Homo sapiens: one gene and its partners. The protein of the gene in region 2 purifies or fractionates together with the protein of the main gene of each other region. This does not show direct contact. Each region holds a gene or a part of one and is shown on either strand. Other genes may lie near its edges. The genes, in order: SATB2, CRYBG2, YEATS2, KAT14 and HELZ.

Region 1 (3,521 bases), on a different chromosome or scaffold from region 2:
GCACCCAGCACAAAAACTCATTTTTCAATGACTCATTAATCATACGACAATTTCAAAACTAATAAAAATTTAAATCGCCTACATAATAGAAATACATTTCAATTCAACCAGAGATCCAACACACTTTCGAATAAAGAGAGAAAAAATGTATTAACTGACTTAACAAAAACGCTATTTATTTAACTCACGCAGTATTGCTTAAAGAGTATCTACAAAATTCTTACCTCAATGTTTTCTTGCAAGAGACGTGGAAACCAAAAGTAAACAGACCCTCTTTAACAATGAACCACTGATAAACATAAAATATTTATAACTGGTATAACATTTCACTTAGGTGCATTTTTTGAGTGTTAACTTGCATCAGGCAATCCAATTTACCAACATTTATCAGATTTCTCCCCAGTGAGAGTTTTCACTTAACTTTTTTTTTTTTTTTTTTTTTTTTGAGATGGAGTTTCACTCTCACTCAGGCTGGAGTGCAGTGGCATGATCTCGGCTCACTGCAGCCTCCGCCTCCTGGGTTCAAGGGATTCTTCTGCCTCAGCCTCCTGAGTAGCTGAGACTACAGGCACGCATCACCACGCCCAGCTAATTTTTTTGTTTTGTTCTGTTTTAGTAGAGATGGTGTTTTACCATCTTGCCCAGGCTGGTCTTGAACTCCTGACCTCAAGTGATCCGCCCACCTTGGCCTCCCAAAGTGCTAGGACTACAGACATGAGCCACTGTGCCCAGCCCCTTAACTTCTGAAGTAATCATTAAATTTGGAAACATTCCTGTATTTTCCAAATTATTGAGGTTTCAATCCAGCATGCTTTCTTTCATTTGTAAGGTCCATCTACAGCGTGTGTTATCATGTGTCTCTGAACAGGTATCAGATAAATGAAAGCATTCCTACATTCTGTACGTTCACAGGGTTTTTCTCAGAAATCAGTTGTTTTATGTCTTCAAATTATTCCTGCATTTTTTAACTCAACATCTTTCCTATGAATGTCTTTACCTTAAAATAATAATCTTCTTCTTCATCATCTTTGCCTGCTGTACTTTATTAATCCTTCAAGGTCTAACCCATTGACAACCTAATACTCTAGAGTGTTGTTTACATATGTGCTTGCCCATTATCTTTTTCCTCTTTGCACCCACATAGAGCTTAGCTTCCTGCCTTGCATTTACGAGGGTGCTGAAATTTTAATCTACTGTTTTCTTGAAGGCTTACCATATTCATTCTCCTGGAAGTATTCCTCACCTCCAGCTCACCATGAACCTCCACCACAACTATTGCTTACACTCTCCAACATTACTCATAACACTTCACATTTTACTCTAATTATCTGGTTACCTGGTTTTCACCACTAGATCGTTAGCTCCCCGAGATTATGCACATCTGCTTTGTTCTTACTCATATAAGGGCTAGGTAAGTTTTTCTCAACATGCGGCCCCGGATCAGTACCATCATAATCACCTGGGATCTTGTTAGAAATGTCCATTTCTGAGTCCAACCTCAGACTTACTCAATCAGAAACTATGGGATGAGGCCCAGCAGTCTGTGTTTCACAGCCCTCCAGGTGATTCTGATGCACACTCCAGTTTAAGAACTACTAGCAGAAAAGAATGTCTTACATATAAGCACCCTCAATAAAAATAAGACGTGTGAATTAACTGTTTACATTTTCAACATTTAGTGTTATAATTGGCATATAATTCTCTCAAACATTAAAAATAAAAGTAAACTATCCATTATCATTTTATCAATATCTTAAATCTAACTTTTATGTTTTGAAGGATTTTTATAAATTTTTAAATAAAACTTTACTTATAAAATTATAAAACATAATTTTATTTCTTTTATAACGTTCAAAACCAAGGGAAAAAAATAGATTGTCTGGGCATGCATAGTTTTATAATTTGTTTTAAAAAATGGCAAGAGACTGATAATCACAAAATTCAAGATCAGGGTTACATCTGCAAACAGTAAATGGAGAGGATGAGAGAGTACATACCCAAGTCATTAGTAACATTTGGGGTCCTGAGTTGCATGTTGGGTTCAAAGATGTCCATTACCTCATCAAAATTAATCAATTAGTTAATTAATCATGGTCATGCATGGATCAATGGTAATAGCGTTTCATTAACTAAGGATTATTAATTAATCTAATTCTATGTCCTGAGATCCATAAAGCTTTTTAAAGAGATAAAAATAATTATAACCTATCTCAATTCTGTCCCCAGTATTACTGTTAATTACAGTGTTTAATGCTAATTGTACCTGTGTGCGGTTGAATGCCACTCTTGCAAAGACAGCTTGGGACACACTGGCCCTCTTCAGCTCATCTCTGACTTGCTGGTAGATATCTGGAGAGACTTCCACGGAAGAGTTGGTTGGCTCTGGCTTAACTGCTCTGGGGATGGGTGGATGGTTCAGGAACTGCTGGTTGATGGCTTGAGGATGCTGGTGAGCCAGGAGCCGGCTAACGGCAATCTGTTGGTTTATCAGATGGGCCATGGCTATTTGTTGCCTTACAAGTTGTGGACTAAGCTGGGGAGAAAGAAGACCAGGGCTCATGATGGGCTGTAATGCGGGCACTTGGTTTCGGATTGGAGTACTGTGGTGAATTTGGCTGTGAGGAGACTGTTCGTTGGTTTTCCCCAGGGATGCCAGCTGGTTCATATTTGGTAAATGCATTGGACGCTGGCCCAGAACACAATAGTCTGAAAGGTTTTCTCGTTCCACTCTTTCCACTGTTAAGAGATAAAAGTGATAATTAATCATTATTTTCATTGGTACAATTTATTGCTAATATATGTAGAACTGAATTATCATACTTTTGGCATGTTAATAATATAAACATTTTTTCATACAACGATGGAAGCTCCAGCATAAAAGTGATATTCTTTTCTGCTAAATGTTACAATAGATTTTTTTCATGGAACATATGAAAGAAAGTAAAATTATTTGCCACTTCAATTAGTTAAAATTCTTAAAAGTAAGCATTTCTTTAAATAGCCAAGACAGAAACCACTGACCATTCTAAATCCTCTTAGATCCCCCAAGCTCTATCATCTCCCCAATCAACCTTTGTTATAAAAGCACCAGCTGTTCCTATCTTCTGTAGTATGTAGTTAATGGTTATCAGGAAATGACAAGGATAACATCTCCTGCCAAATTAAGTGCTACCTTCTAGTAAAAAGCTCACATAAATATTATTATACAGCTATGGAAATGTTCATTTAAAAATGTCTGCCACATAGTATATCCATTTATTGACTCACTTGCTATCTTTTTTATAGAAATGTTTCTTTAAGAAATTGATATTTTAAACATTGTGCTATGCACTCAGATAAGAAAAAAAATCACAAAATTAATAACATCACCTCAACTTGCCATTAAATGAAGTTCTCCTCAGGTTATCTGCTTTATTACATTATATTGTGCTTTAATAAAGATTAAAAGAATAACTTTGAAAGGGAAAAGTAAGTATCATATATATACAAGCATAAGGCAAGTATTTTTCTTTCCCTAAAAT
Region 2 (3,521 bases):
CAAGGATAAAGTTAAAAAAAATGTGATTTTTTTCTTTTTCCTCTTCTGGGGATATTGTCTAGAGGCACTGAGAATGTTCCAGCATTTGACATATTGTCATAGGCTTTCCTACGGTACAGCCTCTAACAAAACTAGGCTGTCCTGAGCCCCTCGTAATAGAATTGTTGACCTCTATACCTACAAAGTTGGGAAAGCACCAAAATCTGCATGTGGCGTGTGCCCAGGCAGACTTCAAGGGGTTCATGTTGTGAGGTCTAAAGTTCTTATGAGATTGTCCAAAACAAAAAACATGTCAGGAGGGCCTATGGTGGTTCCAGGTATGCTAAATGTGTTCGTGGCAGGATCAAGCCTGCTTTCCTTATGCAGCAGCTAAAAATCCTTATGAAAGTGTTGAAGGCACAAGCACAGACTCAGAAAGCTAAATAAAAACTGGGCTGGGGCTGGGCACAGTGGTTCATGCCTGTAATCCCAACACTTTGGGAGGCCAAGGTGGGCAGATCACATGAGGTCAGGAGTTCAAGACCAGCCTGGCCAACATGATGAAACCCCATCTCTACTAAAAATACAAAAATTAGCTAGGCGCAGTGGCTCATGCCTGTAATCCCAGCACTCTGGGAGGCCGAAGTGGGCAGATCACAAGTCAGGCGTTCGAGACCAACCTGGCCAATTACAGTGAAACCTCGTCTCTACTAAAAATACAAAAAATTAGCCGGGTGTGGTGGCAGGCACCTGTAATCCCAGCTACTTGGGAGTCTGACGCAGGAGAATTGCTTGAACCCAGGGGGCAGAGGTTGCAGTGAGCCGAGATCACGCCATTGCACTTCAGCCCAGGTGACAGTGCGAGATTCCGTCTCAAAAAACAAAAAACAAAAAAAAAAACCAAAAATTAGCCAGATGTGGTGGCACATACTTGTAATCCCAGCTACTTCGGAGGATGAGGTAGGAGAATCACTTGAATCTGGGAAGCGGAGGTTGCAGTGAGCCGAGATCGTGCCATTGCACTCCAACCTGGGCAACAAGACCAAAACTCCATCTCAAAAAAAAAAAAAAGGGCTGGGCATGGTGGCTCACGTCTGTAATCCCAGCACTTTGGGAGGCCGAGGCAGGTGGATCACTTGAGGTCAGGAATTGGAGACCAGTCTGGCCAACATGGTGAAACCCTGCCTCTACTAAAAATACAAAAATTAGCTGAGCGTGGTAGCACGTGCCTGTGGTCCCAGTTACTTGGGAGGCTGAGGCACAAGAAGCACTTAAACCCGGGAGGTGGAGGCTGCAGTGAGCCAGGATGTTGCCACTGCGCTCCAGCCTTTGTGGCAGAGCAAGACTCTGTCACACAAAAAAAAAAAAGAAAAAGAAAGAGAAAAAAAAGCTTTTTTTAAGAAATAAAAATTAATTAAAAGACTTTTAAAAAGAGAGTTAATCTAGAGAAAAATATTAAGTAGACAATGGCTCAAGAGGAATGACGATGTGGCAAAAGTTGTGACAAAAGTACACAAATGCTGTGTTTGGGAAACACACAGCTAGACACTCATCCAGAAAGGCCTGCCCAGACACGCTCAGCCCCAGACACGCTCAGCTCCAGCCACGCTACCCACCTGCTTGATGGGGTAGAGGGAGCCCACCCTCTGGGTGCCGCTGTAGGTCAGCCAGTTGGTGATCTCGCAGCTTCCCACCAGCCACTGGCGGCCCCGGAAGTCACTGTGTTCACATAGCACCCAACTGGGCCCAGCAGGTGTCAGGGACACAGAGAAGAGCACAGACACACAGACAGACAGACAGGTGGAGGAGGAGACACAGACGTCAAAACGTTCTCCACCTCCTCTTCTCCCATGGAGGGATTCCTCTGCCTGGAATAGGGTTCCCAGGGCGGAGAGGGAGGCTGGGAAGTAGATTTGGGGTTTTCAGGGTAAAGAAGGATCCTGAGAAGCCCACCAAGCTGGGGTCTAAGCCCTGAGAGCCAGTGACCCTTCTCAGTCCGCACTTCTCCCTCCTTCCTGGCTTGGAGGGGAGTGGGGGAAAAGTGGGGAGGGGAAAGAGGCCAGAGACCCCCAGGATCTCTGTCTTGCCATGACTCATCCCCACCAGCAGCCACCGCACCCATGCCTCCCCTCAGCACTCACATGCCCCCCTTGATCCGCACAGACAGCACATGGTTGTTGAAGCCCTCGGCTTGCAGGCTCCGCACCTCCCTGCTGAGCTCGATCTCCTTCCCCTCGAAGCACTCGAGTCCATACAGGAAAATGGAAGGCTCTGAAAAGTGCTGGGGCCCAGGAGACAGAAGAGGGTGAGGCTCTGAGAGCCCAAGTCCCAGACGCAGCCCCACAATCCCAGACACCCTGACTCCCAGATCTGTATGTCAGGCCTTCTTCCCTCCTGAGCTCAGTTCTGCAGGGCCACTGATTCTTGGACGCTGCCAGCCGAGTGCTCCTGATTCTCAGAGGCAGTAAGCGCTAGGCTGGGTCCCCAGTTTCCCCCTCAAACCTCCTCTCCAGTAAATAGCACTTCTCAGAACTAACCTGGCACTCTGAGCCAGGATGGAAACCTGGGGCTTATTCTAGGCTTTTTTTTTTTTTTTTTTTTGAGACAGAGTCTCACTCTTGTCACCCAGGCTGCAGTACAGTGGCGCGATATTGGCTCACTGCAACCTCTGCCTCCCGGGTTCAAACAATTCTTCTGCCTCAGCCTCCTGAGTAGCTGGGATTACAGGCACGCACCACCATCCCCGGCTAATTTTTGTACTTTTAGTAGAGACAGGCTTTCGCCATGTTAGTCTGGCTGGTCTCAAACTCCTGACCTCAGGCGATCTGCCTCCTTGGCCTGCCAAAGTGCTGGGATTACAGGGGTGAGCCACCATGCGCAGCTTAGATTTTTTTTTTTTTTTTTTGAGATAGGGTCTCGCTCTGTTGCCCAGGCTGGAGTGCAGTGGTGCAATCACGGCTCACTGTAGCCTCAACTTCCTGGGCTAAAGCAATCCTCCCACCTCAGCCTCCTGAGTAGCTGAGACTACAGGCACATGCTACCATGCCCAGCTAATTTTTTGTAGAGACAGGGTCTCACCATGTTGCCCAGGCAGGTCTCAAACTCCTAGGCTCAAGTGATCCTCCTGCCTTAGCCTGCTGAAGTGCTATAATTTATTTACTTTATTTTTTTGAGATGGAGTCTCACTCTGTCACCCAGGCTGGAGTGCAGTGGCGCAATCTCAGCTCACTGTAACCTCCACTTTTTAAGTTCAAGCAATTCTCCTGCTTCAGCCTCCCAAGTAGCTGGGATTACAGGCATGTGCCATCATGCCCGGCTAATTTTTGTAGAGACGGGGTTTCATCATGTTGGCCAGGCTAGTCTCAAACTCCTGACCTCATGATCTGCCCGCCTTGGCTTCCCAAAGTGCTGGAACTACAGGCGTGAGCCAACACGCCCGGCCCAAAGTGCTAGAATTATAGGTACAAGCCACTGCACTTGGCTTCATTCTAGATTTCTCCTTTTCATCTTCATGATAACAATAACAACAATAATAATACTGA
Region 3 (3,521 bases), on a different chromosome or scaffold from region 2:
AGCTACTCAGGGCAGGAGAATTGCTTGAACCCGGGAGGCAGAGGTTGCAGTGATCCGAGATTGCGCCACTGCACTCCAGCCTGGGTGACAGAGTGAGACTTCGTCTCAAAAAAAAAAAAAAAAAAAAAAATAGGTGGGGAAGGGGAGTAGTACAATCATTTTCTATCTGCTTCCATACAGACAGGCATTCCTAAGATGCTGATAATGATTTCATAGTTCCTGGCCCTGTCCTTTCTACAGTCTTAAAAGAAAATACATTCTCTTTTGTAAACAAGACAACCAGTGTTCCTTTATTAAATATCTGAATAAGACTCTACAATCCATTTTCCATTAGCCAATGACATTTCAAAAATGTCTCAAAAGTCCAAACCAGAGGAATGGACGAACAAATCGTGGTATACTCAATGAACTCTTGATGCAGGCAACAACAGAAATGAACCTCAAAATCATTATGGCAAGCCAAAGAAGGCAAACACAAGAGTACAAGCTAAATTATCCCACTTAAGTTCTAGAAGAGACAAATTAATCTATAGTGAAAGAAATGAGAATCATAGTTGGAGGTGCTGGTGTTAGGGACTGACTGGGAAGAGGAATGAAGACTTTTTTCTTAGAAATATTTTATTCAGGTTGAGTATTCCTTACCCAAGATGCCTGGGACCAGAACTGTTTCAGATTTCATACTGTTTTGGATTTTGGAATATTTGCATATACATAGTAAGATATCTTTGGGAAGGAACCCAAATCTAAACATGAAATTCATTTACGCTTCATAAATATCTTACACACAGAGCCTGAAGGTAATTTTATACAACATTTTAAATAATTCAAAACATAACACAAAGTTTTGACTATGTTTTAACTGACCAGTCACAAGGTCAGGTGTGAAATTTTCCACTGTGGCATCATGTTGGTGCTTAAGAAGTTTCAGATTTTGGAGCATTTAAGATTCAGATTTTTGGATTACCAATGCTCCACCTAACTTTTTTTTTTTTGAGACAGAGTTTCGCTCTTGTTGTCCAGGCTGGAGTGCAATGGCACAATCTCAGCTCGCGGCAACCTCCGCCTCCCGGGTTCAAGCGATTCTCCTGCCTCAGCCTCCTGGGTAGCTGGGATTACAAGTATGCGCCACCGCGCCGGGCTAATTTTGTATTTTTAGTAGAGACGGGGTTTCTCCATGTTGGTCATGCTGGTCTCGAACTCCCGATCTCAGGTGATCTGCCCGTCTTGGCCTCCCACAGTGCTCCACTAATCTTAATAAGAGTGTAGGTTAGATGGGTATGTATATCCAATTGCAAAAACACCCAACTGTACACGCAAAATCTGTATTTCACTGTCTGTAAACTATACCTCACTTTAGAAAAGGACAATAAGAATATTTTTCTGATCATGTCATCCCCTGCTTGAATCCTTCAAATAGCTTTTCATAACATTTAGAACAAATTTCCATTCCTTAACATGACCTAAGAGATGTGAACTGCGCCCTGTCTCCCTCTCCATCCTTAATCTTTAAGATCCAGACAGGTTGGTTTTCTATCCCTCAAATATACTCCCAATTTTCCTTTGAGCTTTTGGAATCATGGCTCCTTCTATCTGGAATGCTCTTTTCTTAGGTTAGCTTAATCAGATTCCAGCTGAAATCTCCCCCTTATCAGGGGCCTTCCTTGACCGTGCCCCATCCAACACAGCTCTCCCTACCTTCTCCCTCCAAAGTTCCTGGAAGTGCTCAATATTACTATCTGGAAAAATAAATGAAGGATTTTTTTTTTTTTTTTGAAACAGTCTTGCTCTGTCACCCAGGATGGAGTGCAGTGGTGCGATCTTGGCTCACTACAAGCTCCGCCTCCCGGGTCAGGCCATTCTCCTGCCTCAGCCTCCCGAGTAGCTGGGACTACAGGCGCCCGCCACCATGCCTGGCTAATTTTTTTGCATTTTTACTAAAGATGGAGTTCCACCATGTTAGCCAGGATGGTCTCGATCTCCTCAACTCGTGATCTGCCTGCCCCGGCCTCCCAAAGTGCTGGGATTAGAGGCGTGAGCCACTGCGCCCAGCCATAAATGAAGGATTAACTAAAATATCTGCCAAAATATAAATGACCACAGGGAACATAACTACTACCTTACATTAGTTTTCATCATTAATCTATTTGTTGATATTGCTACATCTTTAAAGGCTCTTTAGCTAAATGTTTAAAAGAATGTACAAAGTTATTATACACAGACACATGCAAACAAAAAGACAGTAAGCAAGGCAATATTAATAATAGAATTCAAGGCAAAAAAAATAACATGATAAAGATGATGTTATTAAAGGCACAATCACAAAAATACATCTTAAACTATACATCCAACAATATAGTATCAAAATACATACAACAAACAGAAAAAGGAAAGTTTAAGAAATCACACATCTCTATATAAAATTTAAAAGATTAAGACAATTTATAAAAATACAGATGATAGGCCGGGCGTGGTGGCTCACGCTTGTAATCCCAGCAGTTTGGGAAGTTGAGGCAGGTGACTCGCTTGAGCTCAGGAGTTCAAGACCACCCTGGGCAACACAGTGAAACCCTGTCTCTACAAACAATACAAAAATTAGTTAGGAGTAGTGGCAAGCACCTGTACTCCCAGCTACTTGGGCAGCTGAGGTAGGAGGATTGCTTGAGCCCAGGAGATGGAGCCTGCAGTTAAGCTGAGATCGCGCCGTTGCACCTCCAGCCTGGGTGACAGAGCCAGACCCCGTCTCAAACAAAACAAACACAACAAACAAAAAAGATGATATAGATATATATCTGGTAATTAACAAGCCAGAATTAACAAATACACACAACTCTGAACCCAACAGAAAAAAATCTTTTAAAAATATCTATAAAAGTTCATTAAGGTCGGATGCAGTGGCTCATGCCTGTAATCCCAGCATTTTGGGAGTCCAAGGTGGGTGGATCACTTGAGGACAGGAGTTTGAAACTAGCCTGGCCAATGTGGTAAAACCCCGTCTCTACTAAAAATACAAAAATTAGCTGGGCATAGTTGTGGATACCTGTAATCCCAGCTACTTGGGAGGCTGAGGCAGGAGAACTGCTGAACCCAGGAAGTGGAGGTTGCAGTGAGCCGAAATCACGCCACTGCACTCCAGCCTGGGCAACAGAGTGAGACTCTGTCTCAAAAAAAAAAAAGTTCATAAAATGTAAATCATACAGTAAGATATGAAGAAAGTCTCAAATTACTGCAAAATGTAGAAATATTACAGCCACATTCTGATCTTAATAAAAATTAATATTAGCTCACCATGATATGGAAAATAAGACACTCTTCTAATAACTCATGACTCAAAGAAGAAATTAAAACTAAAGTAACAGACTATTTAAAAACTAACGAGAACACAGTATCTCCAAACCTATGGAAATGTGGTCAAAAGTCACCATCAGAGGAAAATGGCAAACAAGCTTTCACTGCAAATACACATACAAATCCAATCCAGCAGGGTATTAAAAGCATAATGCATCATAACTGGAAAGTTTTAT
Region 4 (2,857 bases), on a different chromosome or scaffold from region 2:
GTATCTGTTTCCTCACTGTTCATGAAGGCACCTAGCACAGTCCCTGGTGGGTACAGAGGGCTTTGGCCTGATGAATGTTCAGAGTGAATTTTAGATTTCATACATAAAAGTATAGCTGTAATCAAGCCAGCTTCGTGTAAAACAGTGCAGGTTACTTTAAAGTTTCAAGCAGATCAAAGAGTTTATATGAGTCAAAAAGCTAGGAATAATACCAGGTATTTTTCTTGACTTGAATTTGTTTATCTTCTGTGGTACCGGAGGCGTGATTATGAAACAAAGCCACCCAAACTGCAGCTCCTGTCACAGATTCGTTCCCACCTGCACAGGAGCGACCCTCACTGGACGCCGGAGCCCGACGCACCTCTCGATTACTGTTATGTGCGGCCAAATCACATCCCAACGATCAACTCCATGTGTCAGGAGTTTTTTTGGCCTGGTATGTTCCCCCTCCCAAACCAGGCAGGTCATTTTTCTGTACAGTCCATTCTAGCAATTTTTAAAATTAGTTTATGTGATATCCTTAAGATTTTTATTTATGATTTCGTTTAGTTTGTCTCTGCTAACATGGAAATATTAAAATACAAATACCTCTTGCTTTCCCAAAATCTAGAAGAAGCCAGCAATAAACAGTGTTTTTGTTTGTTTCTCTTCCCTGTTTGTCTCTGTTTCCAGAGTAAAAGATTCATCCTGTTTTGCTTCTGCATATGTTTAGATACCAGGTAATGTCTATCAAAGATACACAGACTGGTAGCTTGGGCGTGTTTGGACACTTTTGTTTTTGGCTTAATAATTCTTTATGTTTTGTTTATTTAGCTGTTCCTTAGAGAGTATTAGTACAGCCAGAAGGTGTTTTTTAAAAGCCAAATGCCCTGATCACAGACTGAGAATAAGGGTAAACCCAATATAATTTGTCATTTTATCAGCCTTAACAAAATTGCCTCTGAAGACCAAAGTCATTAATTAAAGGAACACATTTGCATTGCTAAATATAAACTATTCTTTGTGGATCTGCTTTCCCACGCTGCCTTGAAACCTAAAGGAAATAATACATGTCTTTCAGATGTTAGATACGATTTCATCAAGATAGAGCTGTGTCGTCTTTATTGTCACATAATCACATAACTGTGAATGTGGTGGCAGAGCTGCACTCATTCTTTTGGGAGTCATACTGAGCCAAAAGTAACATTCTGGGAGCATCTCCTGCTTCCTGCCCTTATGTTAGGTGCCTTCCATACATTATGCACAGAAGCATATTTTACTTATTTATTGTGAAAGGTAGCATTTGTACAAAAGAACTTATAAATTATATGTGTGGGGGGTAAAGGATGTGATAGAACACGCTCGGAGGATCTTTACTTAACCCTGTCAGGTCTAGGTATGCTCTTCATCTTACATATTGCAGAAACGGAGTCTCTGAGACATTTTGAAATGTGCCAAGCCACACATGGTAGAGGAGGCTGAGTTCAAAGCCAGCTGTGTCCAATTCTGAACCCGTGCACTGCTACCTACCCTATTCTGCCACTCTTCTTTTAGGAAATACTATGTAATTTCAATATTTTCTAAAATTCACTCTTATTTTTATGATCTGGTTGTGTGGTCTCTATGTTACCTCCAGTTTTGGTGTTTTTTTTTTTTTTTTTTAGCATGCAGGTGTAGCTATATGTACATGCTGAACAGCTTGGTGTTCCTTAATTCTCAAAGGCATGTGGTTTGAGTCTCCGATGGTTTCTTTTCTTTAGGCATTGACCTGTCTGAGTGTCTGCAGTACCCAGACTTCAGTGTTGTTGTTCTTTATAAAAAAGTCATCATTGCCTTTGGCTTCATGGTTCCTGATGTGAAATACAATGAAGCTTACATTTCATTTCTGTTCGTCCACCCTGAATGGAGAAGAGCAGGGATTGCAACTTTCATGATCTATCATCTGATTCAGGTAAGTTGTCTATGTTTATGATTTATCACCTGTGTCTGGGCTCCCCTGAACAACCTGGAGGAGGAATGAAGCTGAGCTAGCCCTTCCCAGCATGGCCCAATGGAATGGTTTCCTTGTAAACCAAGTGAAGAAAGCCAGTCATCAGCATTCATGAGGTTATCAAAGCACACAGTCAAAAATCTTCGACCCTCTAAAATAAGATTATTATTCAGACTCAGGTTTCATAGAAACCAGTTTGTGAACATGTGTATAAATAAAATGAGAAAATACCAAAAGCAAGAGCTTTAGGGTGGACTATTCATATTAGTAGTAGCTACTGCTCTTAGGATCATCACCTTCGCAACTCAGAGAAGTGAGGGTAGGACTATTATTTTTATTTTTTTAAATATTTGTAAACATTTTAGCACAACTGTATCAATAAGAATATGTATATATTTTTTGAGACAGGGTCTCATTCTGTCACCCAGACTGGAGTTGCACAATCATAGCTCACTGCAGCCTCAACCTCCTGGGCTCGAGTGATTTTCCCGCCTCAGCCTTCTGGGTAGCCAGGACCACAGGTGCACACTGCCATGCCCGGCTGATTTTTTGTAGGGACAGGGTCTCACTGTGTTGCCTGGTCTGTGCTTGAACTCCTTGGTTCAAGCAATCCTTCCACCTCAGCCTCCCGAGTGCTGGGATTATGGGCATGAGCCACTGTGCCTAGCTACATATTTTATTTTTGCTGATAGTTTGTAATTTTACTATCACTGTATAAGGCTGATATGAACCTTCTAAGATTTGATTCTAGTATTGAATTATAATTCATCCTTTAATATATTTGTATCACCTTTGAAGAAAATACACCATATATCACCATCAAAAAACATGCAAGGATTTTTTTCCCCTAGAATTTTTTTTAGTCAACTTTTACTTAGAAACCATTTG
Region 5 (3,521 bases), on a different chromosome or scaffold from region 2:
TCCCATTCAGTGGTGATATAGGTGGGCATAGCAATTGGGGGAAGGGCAGAGAGAAATTGTTTCAAGTTTTCCCAACAAATAATCTCCCTCCATTAATGGATCATACATTCACATCTATAAATGCTAGGAAAGGCTAAATGTTATAGTAGGTATCTTTGTCTAGTTAAATTATAAATAATTTCTCTAACTTCTACATTTTCTGTGCTGGCCATGTATTTCATTTGTCACAAGAAAATCAAAATTACTATAAAAAGAAAAAACAAGTGAAACATAATGTAACCAACCATTTCCATTTAAATGAACTGTTACACTAACATCCAGATATCATCCCACAAGATTAATCTACTAAGTTTTCTGGGAATAAAAGGATCCATAGTGGGAGGGAAAAGCCTTTTCTTTGTTGTTAACGTTAAAGAAATTATTTTAAAAGGTTGGAAATAAACAGCAAGCACATCAATCATTCACTTTGTGAGATGATTCATGCAAAAGCATTTTGAACAGACTAAAGTTACCCTAATACACTGAAAATGTGAAAATCTGCAATGTGCTAAAAAAATATTATCTTTGTCAAATAAATTTTTCAGTGTTGTCAGTAAATCACTCATTTGTGAATCTCATGCAACAAAATAAAACTGACCAAATGTTTTTGCAAAAGTAAATTTCACTCTAAGAACCCACTGACAATGAAAGGTACTTATTCACACACAAACAAAGATAACAGAAATATCAGACATTAAGAGCACCAAGGTACAAAAAGCTTAAATTCCAAAATTAAGGCCCATTTAAAAAGATCAATGACTAAAGTAGATTATTCAATATGAAGTATTATTTAGTAAAGTACAAAACTTCATAAAACCTATAAAAACTTTGGCACACAGTTCCCCCTCATATCATGAACTCATTTGGCAGGTTAAATAAAAACATCATAAGTGATATCAGCAAAAATGGCAGAGTGAGAAACTCCAAAGTCCATCCCTCCATAAAAACAGAAAAAAATTGGCAAAAGCTGTCATAATCCATTTTTTGGGAACCTAGAAACCTAATTAAAAGCTTGTGGCAACCAGAAAAACAATCAAGAATTAAGCAAGAAAAAGAAATAAAAGGCATTCAGATTGGAAAGGAAGAATGAAACTATTTTTATTTGTAGATGACATTATCTTCCATATAAAAAAGCCTAAGATATCTACAAAAAAATCTGTTAATAGAGTTCAGCAAGATTGCAGATACACAATCAATATATCATCATGTGGTTAAACACTAGCAATGAACAATCAAAAAATGAAATTAAGAAAACAATTCCATTTATGATAGCATGAGAAAGAATAAAATGCTTAGGAATAAATTTAACAAAAGAAGTGCAAGACTTATACTTGGAAAATTACAAAATACTGTTGAAAGAAATGTTAAGCGTCCTGAACAAATAGAAAGATGTCCATGTTCAGGTACTCGAAGACTTAATATTGTTAAGGTTGCAATACTCCCCAAATTAATCTAGAGATTTAAAGCAATTCTTTTTTTAAATGTCAGCTGGCTTTTTTTCTGAAGAAATTAGTAAGCTGATCCTAAACCTCACATGAGAAAATTCAAGGAACCCAGAATAGCCAAAACAATCTTCCAAAAGAACAAAATATAAGGACTCATACTTCCAATTCCAAAACTTACTACAATACTACAGTGTACAATACAGTGTGGTACTGGCAGAAAGACAGACACACAGATAAATGAAATACAATGGAGAATCCACAAATAAACCCAGCATCTACAGTCAACTGATTTTTGACAATGTTGCCAAGACTATTCAATGGGGGAAAGGAGTCTTTTCAAAAGCGGTGCTGAGAAAACTGTATGGCCACATGCAAAAGAATGAATTTGATACCCACCTCACACAATATACAAAAATTAACTCAAAATGGACCAAAGAACTAAGAACCAAGTGTAAGAGGTAAAACTATAAAACTATAAAAAGGGGCCGGGTGCGGTGGCTCAAGCCTGTAATCCCAGCACTTTGGGAGGCCGAGGCGAGCAGATCACGAGGTCAGGAGATTGAGACTATCCTGGCTAACATGGTGAAACCCCGTATCTACTAAAAAAAATACAAAAAAAATTAGCCGGGTGTGGTGGTGGACACCTGTAGTTCCAGCTATTCCGGAGGGTGAGGCAGCAGAATGGCGTGAACCCGGGAGGCGGAGCTTGCAGTGAGCCGAGATGGCGCCACTGCACTCCAGCCTGTGCAACAGAGCGAGACGCCATTTCAAAAAAAAAAACAAACAACTATAAAAAGGAAATGTAAAAGTACATCTTTGCCATCTTGGATTAGGCCAGGGTTTCTTGGATATGACACCAAAAGCATAAGCAGCCAAAGAAAAAAATAGATAAATTGTAGTTTAGCATCAAAGGACACTATCAAGAAAGTGAAAAGACAACCCACACAGTGAGAGAAATAATTGCAAATCATATATGAGATTAAGAGTCTGTACCAGAATACATTAAAAAAAACCTCTTATAACTAAGTAACAAAAAAATAACCATTTTTTTAAATGGCTGAAGCATATGAATAGACATTTCTCCAAAAAAGATACAAATGACCAAGAAGCACATGCAAAGATGTCAACATCATCAGTAAATAGGGAAATGCAAATCAAAACTACAGTGAGGGCTGGGCGCGGTGGCTTACGCCTGTAATCCCAGCACTTTGGGAGGCTGGGGGCGGATCACCTGAGGTCAGGAGTTTGAGACCAGCCTGGCCAATATCGTGAAACCCCGTCTCTACTAAAAATACAACAACAACAACAACAAAATTAGCTGGGTGTGGTGGTGGGCGCCTGTAGTCCCAGCTACTCAGGAGCCTGAGGCAAGAGAATTGCTTGAACCTAGAAGGCAGAGGTTGCAGTGAGCCAAGATCATGCCACTGCGCTCCAGCCTGGGCGACTGAGTGCGACTCCGTGTCAAAAAACAAACAAACAACACTACAATGAGATCCTACTACACACCCATTAGGATGGTTATAATTTTTTTTACAAAGCGAGTATATAGAGAAATTGGAATCCTCATACATAGCTGTGGGAATATAAATGTGCAGAGAACACAGTTTGCAGTTCCTCAAAAAGTTAAACATAGACTTACTACATCACCCAAGAACTCCACTCCTAAGTTACAGTGTGGATGCACTTCAAAAGCCAGATATAAAAGGCCACATAATGTATGACTCAATTTTTATGAAATGTCTCCATAGACACAGAAAGTAGATTAGTGGTTACTAATCTGAGAGTGGGGAAATTGGGGTGTAATTGCTTAACAGTTATGGGGTTTCTTTTATGGGTGATGAAATGTTCTGGAATTAGACAGTAGTGATGACTGTATAACATTGTGAATACACTAAAATCCACCAAATTGTACAATTTAAAATGGCTAAAATGGTGACTTTTATGTGAATTTTATTATAAATAGCTAAAACATCACTTAACTGAAAATTACATTACTGATCAGTTGTAAAACTACTGTTCATTATAATCTGAAAGACT

What was found.
Region 1: the proteins of CRYBG2 (region 2) and SATB2 purify together in Homo sapiens (affinity purification with mass spectrometry; one large-scale study listed by BioGRID and IntAct). This does not show direct contact.
Region 3: the proteins of CRYBG2 (region 2) and YEATS2 purify together in Homo sapiens (affinity purification with mass spectrometry; one large-scale study listed by BioGRID and IntAct). This does not show direct contact.
Region 4: the proteins of CRYBG2 (region 2) and KAT14 purify together in Homo sapiens (affinity purification with mass spectrometry; one large-scale study listed by BioGRID and IntAct). This does not show direct contact.
Region 5: the proteins of CRYBG2 (region 2) and HELZ purify together in Homo sapiens (affinity purification with mass spectrometry; one large-scale study listed by BioGRID and IntAct). This does not show direct contact.

What each region holds. Positions count from the first base shown.
Region 1 is NC_000002.12:199,346,438-199,349,958, forward strand, and holds part of SATB2 (DNA-binding protein SATB2), read right to left. Parts: intron 2,737-3,521; coding exon 2,264-2,736; intron 1-2,263. UniProt on the Homo sapiens protein: Binds to DNA, at nuclear matrix- or scaffold-associated regions. Thought to recognize the sugar-phosphate structure of double-stranded DNA.
Region 2 is NC_000001.11:26,326,614-26,330,134, forward strand, and holds part of CRYBG2 (beta/gamma crystallin domain-containing protein 2), read right to left. Parts: intron 2,261-3,521; coding exon 2,121-2,260; intron 1,720-2,120; coding exon 1,596-1,719; intron 1-1,595.
Region 3 is NC_000003.12:183,704,288-183,707,808, reverse strand, and holds part of YEATS2 (YEATS domain-containing protein 2), read right to left. Parts: intron 1-3,521. UniProt on the Homo sapiens protein: Chromatin reader component of the ATAC complex, a complex with histone acetyltransferase activity on histones H3 and H4. YEATS2 specifically recognizes and binds histone H3 crotonylated at 'Lys-27' (H3K27cr).
Region 4 is NC_000020.11:18,182,863-18,185,719, forward strand, and holds part of KAT14 (cysteine-rich protein 2-binding protein), read left to right. Parts: intron 1-260; coding exon 261-436; intron 437-1,739; coding exon 1,740-1,930; intron 1,931-2,857. UniProt on the Homo sapiens protein: Component of the ATAC complex, a complex with histone acetyltransferase activity on histones H3 and H4. May function as a scaffold for the ATAC complex to promote ATAC complex stability. Has also weak histone acetyltransferase activity toward histone H4.
Region 5 is NC_000017.11:67,102,186-67,105,706, forward strand, and holds part of HELZ (probable helicase with zinc finger domain), read right to left. Parts: intron 1-3,521. UniProt on the Homo sapiens protein: May act as a helicase that plays a role in RNA metabolism in multiple tissues and organs within the developing embryo.